Linked DNA regions of Homo sapiens. The protein of the gene in region 1 interacts with the protein of each later gene in a pairwise test. Each region holds a gene or a part of one and is shown on either strand. Other genes may lie near its edges.

Region 1 (3,833 bases):
CAGGGCATCTAGGACAGTGTAGGTCAGTTCGTATTCTCTGGATGGACATTTATGTAAATATTAAAACATTTAGATTAGATGGAAAGATGTATAGTAGGAACATTTCAGAGATACTGTTTCCTTGTAGCATTGTACTATTTATCTGAATTGTTAATTTGGAATAATCACTATATTGATTTTATTTTGAAGATATAATTTATTTCCATTGACTTGATATAAATAACAGAAATGCATCTGCAAGGAATCCAGTTCATTAAAGAAATTTACATTCGTATCTGATTTGGTAAATATGTGCTTGATTTGGGAATATTATATAACAAAATATTTGTGAAATCATTTTGTACTTTTTAATTGTTTTGAAGAAATTTAATACTCAAAATATTTCAAGACACCAAATCATGACTTTTTAGTTATTACATTAAGCTATAACTTGCTTTAATGAGTAAAAACTGTGGGGCTAATTTTCTTCCAAGTGAAACATCAAGTTTAAATAATGTGCACATGAATTTACAAAGTAGAATCAAGTGTGCAAATATGCTATATGTTCTGTAATAGGTTCTTGAAAAGCTGTATATAAACTCAGCTTTTATAAGTTGAGTCATATTTATAGAATAAGAAAATAGGGCAAACATTTAACACTTCTTAAATATTAAGTGATGGGCATACAGATGTTTGTTATGTTAATCTTTATATTTTTCTGTATGTTAGAAATAGTTTACAGAAAAAAATTGTGGTTAGTGACATTAAAGCACATTATATATTAAATATACTCAGGGACTTTGAAATTTAAAGCAATATCAACATACAATTTACCATAGAAAAAATCCTATTCTGATTTTATTAATACCTGTTTTGCAAATTCAGAATTTTTAATGGGTTTAATTAAGCAGATACACACACAACAACAACAACAACAAAAAACTTGGACACACTTCTGTAACACATCTTGAATATAGTCTCATCTGTTGGAATTTTTTAAACTTCTACACTTAAGTCTTAATCTGATTCTCCCTCATCCTCATAATATTCATTATTCAGAGGAGAGGCATCAACAGGAAGAATTCAATTTTACTTAAATAAAAATTTTTTACTAGCAACGGAATGAGTGATTCAGTGGTGGTGTCTTCCTGCTTTGAGAGAGCTGTTCTAAGACTAGGCAGTTAGTCTTAGGCCTAAGACTAGGCAGTTAGTCTAGGGGCTCCACAGCAGGCCCTTCCTCTGGGTTCTCTTTATGAAGAAGGCCTTTGTGTTTTACATAGATTTTGCATTTGTGCTGCTGTCCCTATTGAGTTGTTCTCACCAAGCCAATCTGGGGAGTAGCTCTTAGGGGAAAACTAGTCAAACAGGTTTGCCTGTCTATTCAAAAGGAGGGAAGAACGGTGAAATGTATGGATAAAGGCCAAGAGTAAAACTGTTTTAAGTAATATTCATGCTAATCACTGACTGTTGGTTTTGAAAATACTTTGTAGACATTTGTGAGAATGTATCTTAATGGAGATAAAGTAAGAGAGAAACTGGAAGGGGAAGTAGTTTAGAAGCAGGGGATAAGGACAAGATGGGGAGAAGGAAGGGAAAAACAATGGAGGCAAAATAAGCTCAAGAAGGAAAGAATAGTGTTTCAGTGTCATATCTGGGCTTTATGTAAACTGGGTGTGTTATAGCAGGAAACCATGGTATTGATCTGAGAATGAATTTAATTAAAACAAACAAAAAACCCCCACATGCCTGTGATCCTCAATGTCCAAAATAGGGAGCGTCTTGCCAGGGCAGGGCTGAAGTTTACTAGGAATATTGGTGGGAAAATGTTATAGTTAACCATCTCTGATACTAATCTTATATTAGAGATAATACTTGGTTTCCCCTAGTAAAGTGTTAGAGTCATACAGCTTTATTGTAGTTTGCAAATCTATTACACATATATTTCTACTGTTTAGTTCTCATTCTGCCCCTGAAGCATAGCCCTATAGGTAGTAGCATTTTACAGCTCATAACTTGGTAGAGTCCCAAGTAACCTTTGGAAGTCAAAATGACAATCCAGTCTGGGGAATTTGATGTTAAAACTAAAGCTTCTTGCCTAGAACAAGTTTTGGAACTATAGCTCACCACCTGCCTCATGTTCTGGGAATGCTGAACCTTGATCCCACTGAAATTACCTTTAAGTAGTCTTTCTGTAGTCCTCAGTAATCTCCTCCTTTGCTCCATGCTTCTTCCCTGCTCCTTGAGAGTTCCTTCTCCTTTCTCATCTGTAATGGTAACTCCCCATCTGATCTTTGGTTGTGCCTCTTCTTCCTTCCTGGCATTTTTATTAACATCTTTTGTCCCAGCACCTCTCCTCTTCTCTATTCTCACTCCTTTGGTGTAGTTATTCATGCCCATAGACTGGATTTTTATTTATATATAGATGATTCAAAAAGCTGTATTTCTAATTGTGATTTCTTCTATACTCTCAAGAGCTTAGAGTTCCCAGCTCAACTTCCTAACTCAGATCTGACATCCCCATTTGCCTCAGTCTTCGAAGACAGATTTTGGTGTTGTGGAATTCACTTTTTTACCCTTTATATCTAATCTATTCCTAATTGATCACTATGTCCTTCATGAAGACCTTCTTCCCTTGCCTGAGTCTTTCCATTCACCTCCTGATGTCTTGGTGTAGTCCCACATCACTTCTTCACCAGTGGTACTAAATGACTCATTTTCACCATTACCTGGGCCTTCCATCACCTCCTACTGCCCACAACCATCAGTCACTTGTCCTTACTGACCCACTTGCCTTCTTTGAGTGTGATTTGACTATGCGTTTATTTTCACATGGGGATCCAAAATTTTTAGCATGGCTTTCGAGGCTGTCTATTGTCTAGCTGCTTTCTGATCAGACTTATTTATTTTCTCATATTGCTCAATAGGATTCTATCCTGTTTACCCACTGGGGCATTCATTTCAGGATATCCCCCCGCTTGAGATGTCCTGCCTTTTTTTTCTTCTGCACTTCCAAATTCTCACCCAAGGTTTTGACACTCAAGTCCCACCTCAGACTGTGGCTTCCCAGTCTCTGTCACTTTTCTGTGACTTTGATTTGTACATATATTGATGTTAGCAATTAGGTTTCATTCTCCCTCTAAGGAGAGTATGAACTCTTAGAGGGTGGAGTCTCTTGTCTCCTCATACACCTTGGACAAACACTATTGATCAGAGAGAAGATATTCAAACATGATTGAATGGTATCTTTAGTTTGTCATGAGGCAATAAGGGTAAGTTTCCTAATTTTCTATACGTATTTTGATTTTTTCCTGTTGTTTTTTCCAGAACTGCATCATTCAAACTTGAAACATTCCCCTATTTTTTTTTAACAAGGTGTTCTATATAGGAACAACATATCTTATAGGGATTGCTACATTATTTAGTCACAATGGAAAAAAAAGTTTGATATATAGAAAGATTATATAATAGTTACATGGAACTCTACTATAAAATTATAATGGTTTAGTGGGTTTTCTTTTTTAAATTTACCTGGGGCTTCTATAGGTGGATGTGCATTCACAACTAATTCTAGGTAATGCTAATAAAAGAAAATAATCACGGTGATAATTAACTGTATTTAGTTTTTATTTTGTATTTACATTTCAATGTAAGTATGCCTAATGTCATGAAACCATAGTTGGAGAAAATAATGATTATATGCATGAGGAAGATAACTTAGGAAGCATTCTAATTGTCCAACTCCCCACTTCCCCATAGACCTTTTATAACAATTAAATCAAAGCACCAGCCCAGGAATAATTCTTTTTTCCATTCTTTGTGCCTATTTCCTCCTTTGATAATTGCTGAATTCTTCT
Region 2 (2,818 bases), on another chromosome or scaffold:
AAGGTGGGTTTCAGTGTGCTCAGCTCAGACATTCTTGTAGTCATTAAGCACAGGCCCAGGCAGGTCTTTGTGAAATGGGTTTCCTTAATCACATCACTGTCACTATTAGTAGGAAATATTGGACAATATATAGGTTTCATAATGTAAGACAAATTTTTTTCTGGAACTGACCGCATTTGCACAAAACCATCAGTCATGTTGGCATTAGCCATTTTTTCCATCACAGATGAGGTTCGAAAAAGCATTTTTCCAATTCAGCTTCCCCCAGCTGCACACTTTATCACTCCCCATCAGCTATCCTCCTAAGAGATGTATTATTGCAGTATATTTGGAGATTCCACAAAGGAGCATGGGCCCTGAAATCAATCACACTGCCTAATTTCAAACCTACCAGTAACTATGTGAGTGACCTCGGTTGAGCTACTCAAACTCATTAAGCCACAGTTTCTTCATTTGTAAAATAGGGAAGAGTCACATAACTCTTCATGTTACTAACGATGATTAAATCATATGGAAAGTGTTCAGCACAGTGCCTTGCCTGTTTCAAATCAGGCATTCAAAGACTGTAAACTTTATTATAATTATAGGACAACATGAAAAGCTTTAGAGCTAAAGAATAAAACTTTCTCACTTTACATGTTTTCCAAATAAACACCCATTGTGTGTGTGTGTGTGTGTGTGTGAATTTGAGACACATGGAACTTAGCAGGGAGTGTGCTTCAGAGGTAATAAATGCTCCCATCAACAACCACACTATTGTGTCTTCTTTGGGTTCTTCAGTATTTAAGTTTACTCTTTGTTTATATTGATGAGCTTTTTGACTTAATTTCAGAGCACTGTTTGCCAGAGTGGATTTTAATAGCACCAGCAATTTGTCACGGCTCTGATAGGTCCACAGAGCAGAGAGGAAAAGAAAGACATAAAATCAAGACCTTAGGTTTGAAACAACAGCAACAAAAAAATTGTTCAGGGCCATTAGGAATCATCCATTCAACATACTCCTTTTTCAGATAAGAAAACTGGAGGCCCAAAGGCATCATAGGAGTTTCCCAAAGCCATTCTACCAACTGTACACGAAGCTGTGACTAAAAGCCCGCGGAGAAGGAAAAGGAGCTTGGGAGCCAAGAAAGAAAAGAAAGGAGGTGGAAGGAAAGTCAAGATGTTATTTTGCAATTTCTCTGAAAGGAGTGAAGAGGGACGTTTGGGATTTCATAATTCATAAAGCTCCTTTAGCAAAAGCCCTTGGAAGTCTGAGAATCAGAGAATAAAGAACATTGGATTGGGAGTCCCATACCCTTTATCCATCACTCTTATCAGTATTGTAGCTATGAGGTTTGTGACAATCTCTTTAATAAGCATTTTTAAGAGTTCAGCTTTTTATTGAACGTGTTATAAAATAGGTTTACTCAAAAAAAAAAAAAAAAAGCCCATATTATCATCAGACTCCAGATTCTTCTTTCTTTGCTTCCACCTTCTTCTTCTCGGCCTAGGCCACAGTGACAGAAGGGCAGGACCTCCCGCAGGTACACCACCAGCTGCTGAGCAGGTCTTCCCACCCCGCCCCTCCACTGCAGAGGAGGCTCCCGAAGTTGACGATGGCCAGGGCCTTGGCAGACAAGCCAGGCCAAAAGCCGTCATCATTTACCCCAGCTGCTTTAGAAACGACATTGACCTTATCCTATGTGATGATCCCCTCAGCGTTATACAGAATGAGGGCTGAGTCAGTGCAGGCGAGCTCTGAGATGGAGTCCGTGGTGTGGACAAGTGCAAGGCTGGGCTGCCCGGAGTAGTGCTAGTGCTGGATGCAGTGAGGGCCTGACCCCAACGCAGCCTCAGCTCAGAAGGGCAGAGCATCTTGGCGGCAGCTGGGAAAAGGCTAAATAAGCATTTTTTAAATTTGTAAATTGAGTAATTGGAGGAGATAATCCTTAAGGTTGTTCCATTTTAAGACTTCACAGTTTTGTTCTTCTGCTGCGAAATGCCCTGTGGCAGTCTCTGCGCAGGATGTGACGGGTCCTGAGGCCTGGTTCCTGCCGTGCACATCAACGGGTAGGGTTTGGGTAGGTAGAGAAGGTGGAAAAGGGCATCAAGGACACAGTGGCCCAACTTGAGAGGACAAAAAAAATGATCAATGACCTGGAGAAAAAGTGTAGTGAGTCTGGCTAGAGAAAAAATAGCAACTAGTCATATTAGAAAGCTGGTTAGACCAGAGGCTGTGGAGGACTCCGAATGTGAAGCAAAGACACACATTTGGGAGACATCGAGGGATATTGACAAAGGGAGCTAACGGTGACATCAAAAGACATCATCTAGGAAAAGTGATTGAGAATCACTGGCCCAACTTTGGCAAGGCCAATATTGTGTAAAGTTGAGATTCTCATCAAAATCCATAATTCTAACATTTGGGAGGGGAGGAATTCATAAACACTGAGGCTGTGTCTGTTGCATAACACTGCATCAGAGAATAAAGGGCATGTTCAGATAACCGAATTTTAATATGGATTACTTGCATGGATTCCAACTTACTTTTCAATTTAGGCAAAACAATTTACATATGTGGACTCAGTCTGAGTTTCACATTTTCATTTGGTAAAACTTCACAGCAGCTGTTGGTCACTGAGAGCCAGTGCAACCCTACCCACTGGGCCTGCTCCTGTAATTAATGACACACGCGGACCAAGTAGGAATGGTCTTTGAAGATATTGCAAAAGGGTGACAGTCATAGGAGCTAGTCAGTCAAATGTGAGAAACTCATATGTGTTTGGGATCATTTTAACCGTTTAAAAATACAGAAAGATGTCTGTTTGATTGTTTTCCT

The links.
Region 2: the proteins of UGT8 (region 1) and ADRA1A interact in a two-hybrid assay, tested with the Homo sapiens proteins (one large-scale study listed by BioGRID and IntAct).

The regions. Positions count from the first base shown.
Region 1 is NC_000004.12:114,605,190-114,609,022, forward strand, and holds part of UGT8 (2-hydroxyacylsphingosine 1-beta-galactosyltransferase precursor), read left to right. Parts: intron 1-3,833. UniProt on the Homo sapiens protein: Catalyzes the transfer of galactose to ceramide, a key enzymatic step in the biosynthesis of galactocerebrosides, which are abundant sphingolipids of the myelin membrane of the central nervous system and peripheral nervous system.
Region 2 is NC_000008.11:26,770,725-26,773,542, reverse strand, and holds part of ADRA1A (alpha-1A adrenergic receptor), read left to right. Parts: intron 1-2,818. UniProt on the Homo sapiens protein: This alpha-adrenergic receptor mediates its action by association with G proteins that activate a phosphatidylinositol-calcium second messenger system. Its effect is mediated by G(q) and G(11) proteins.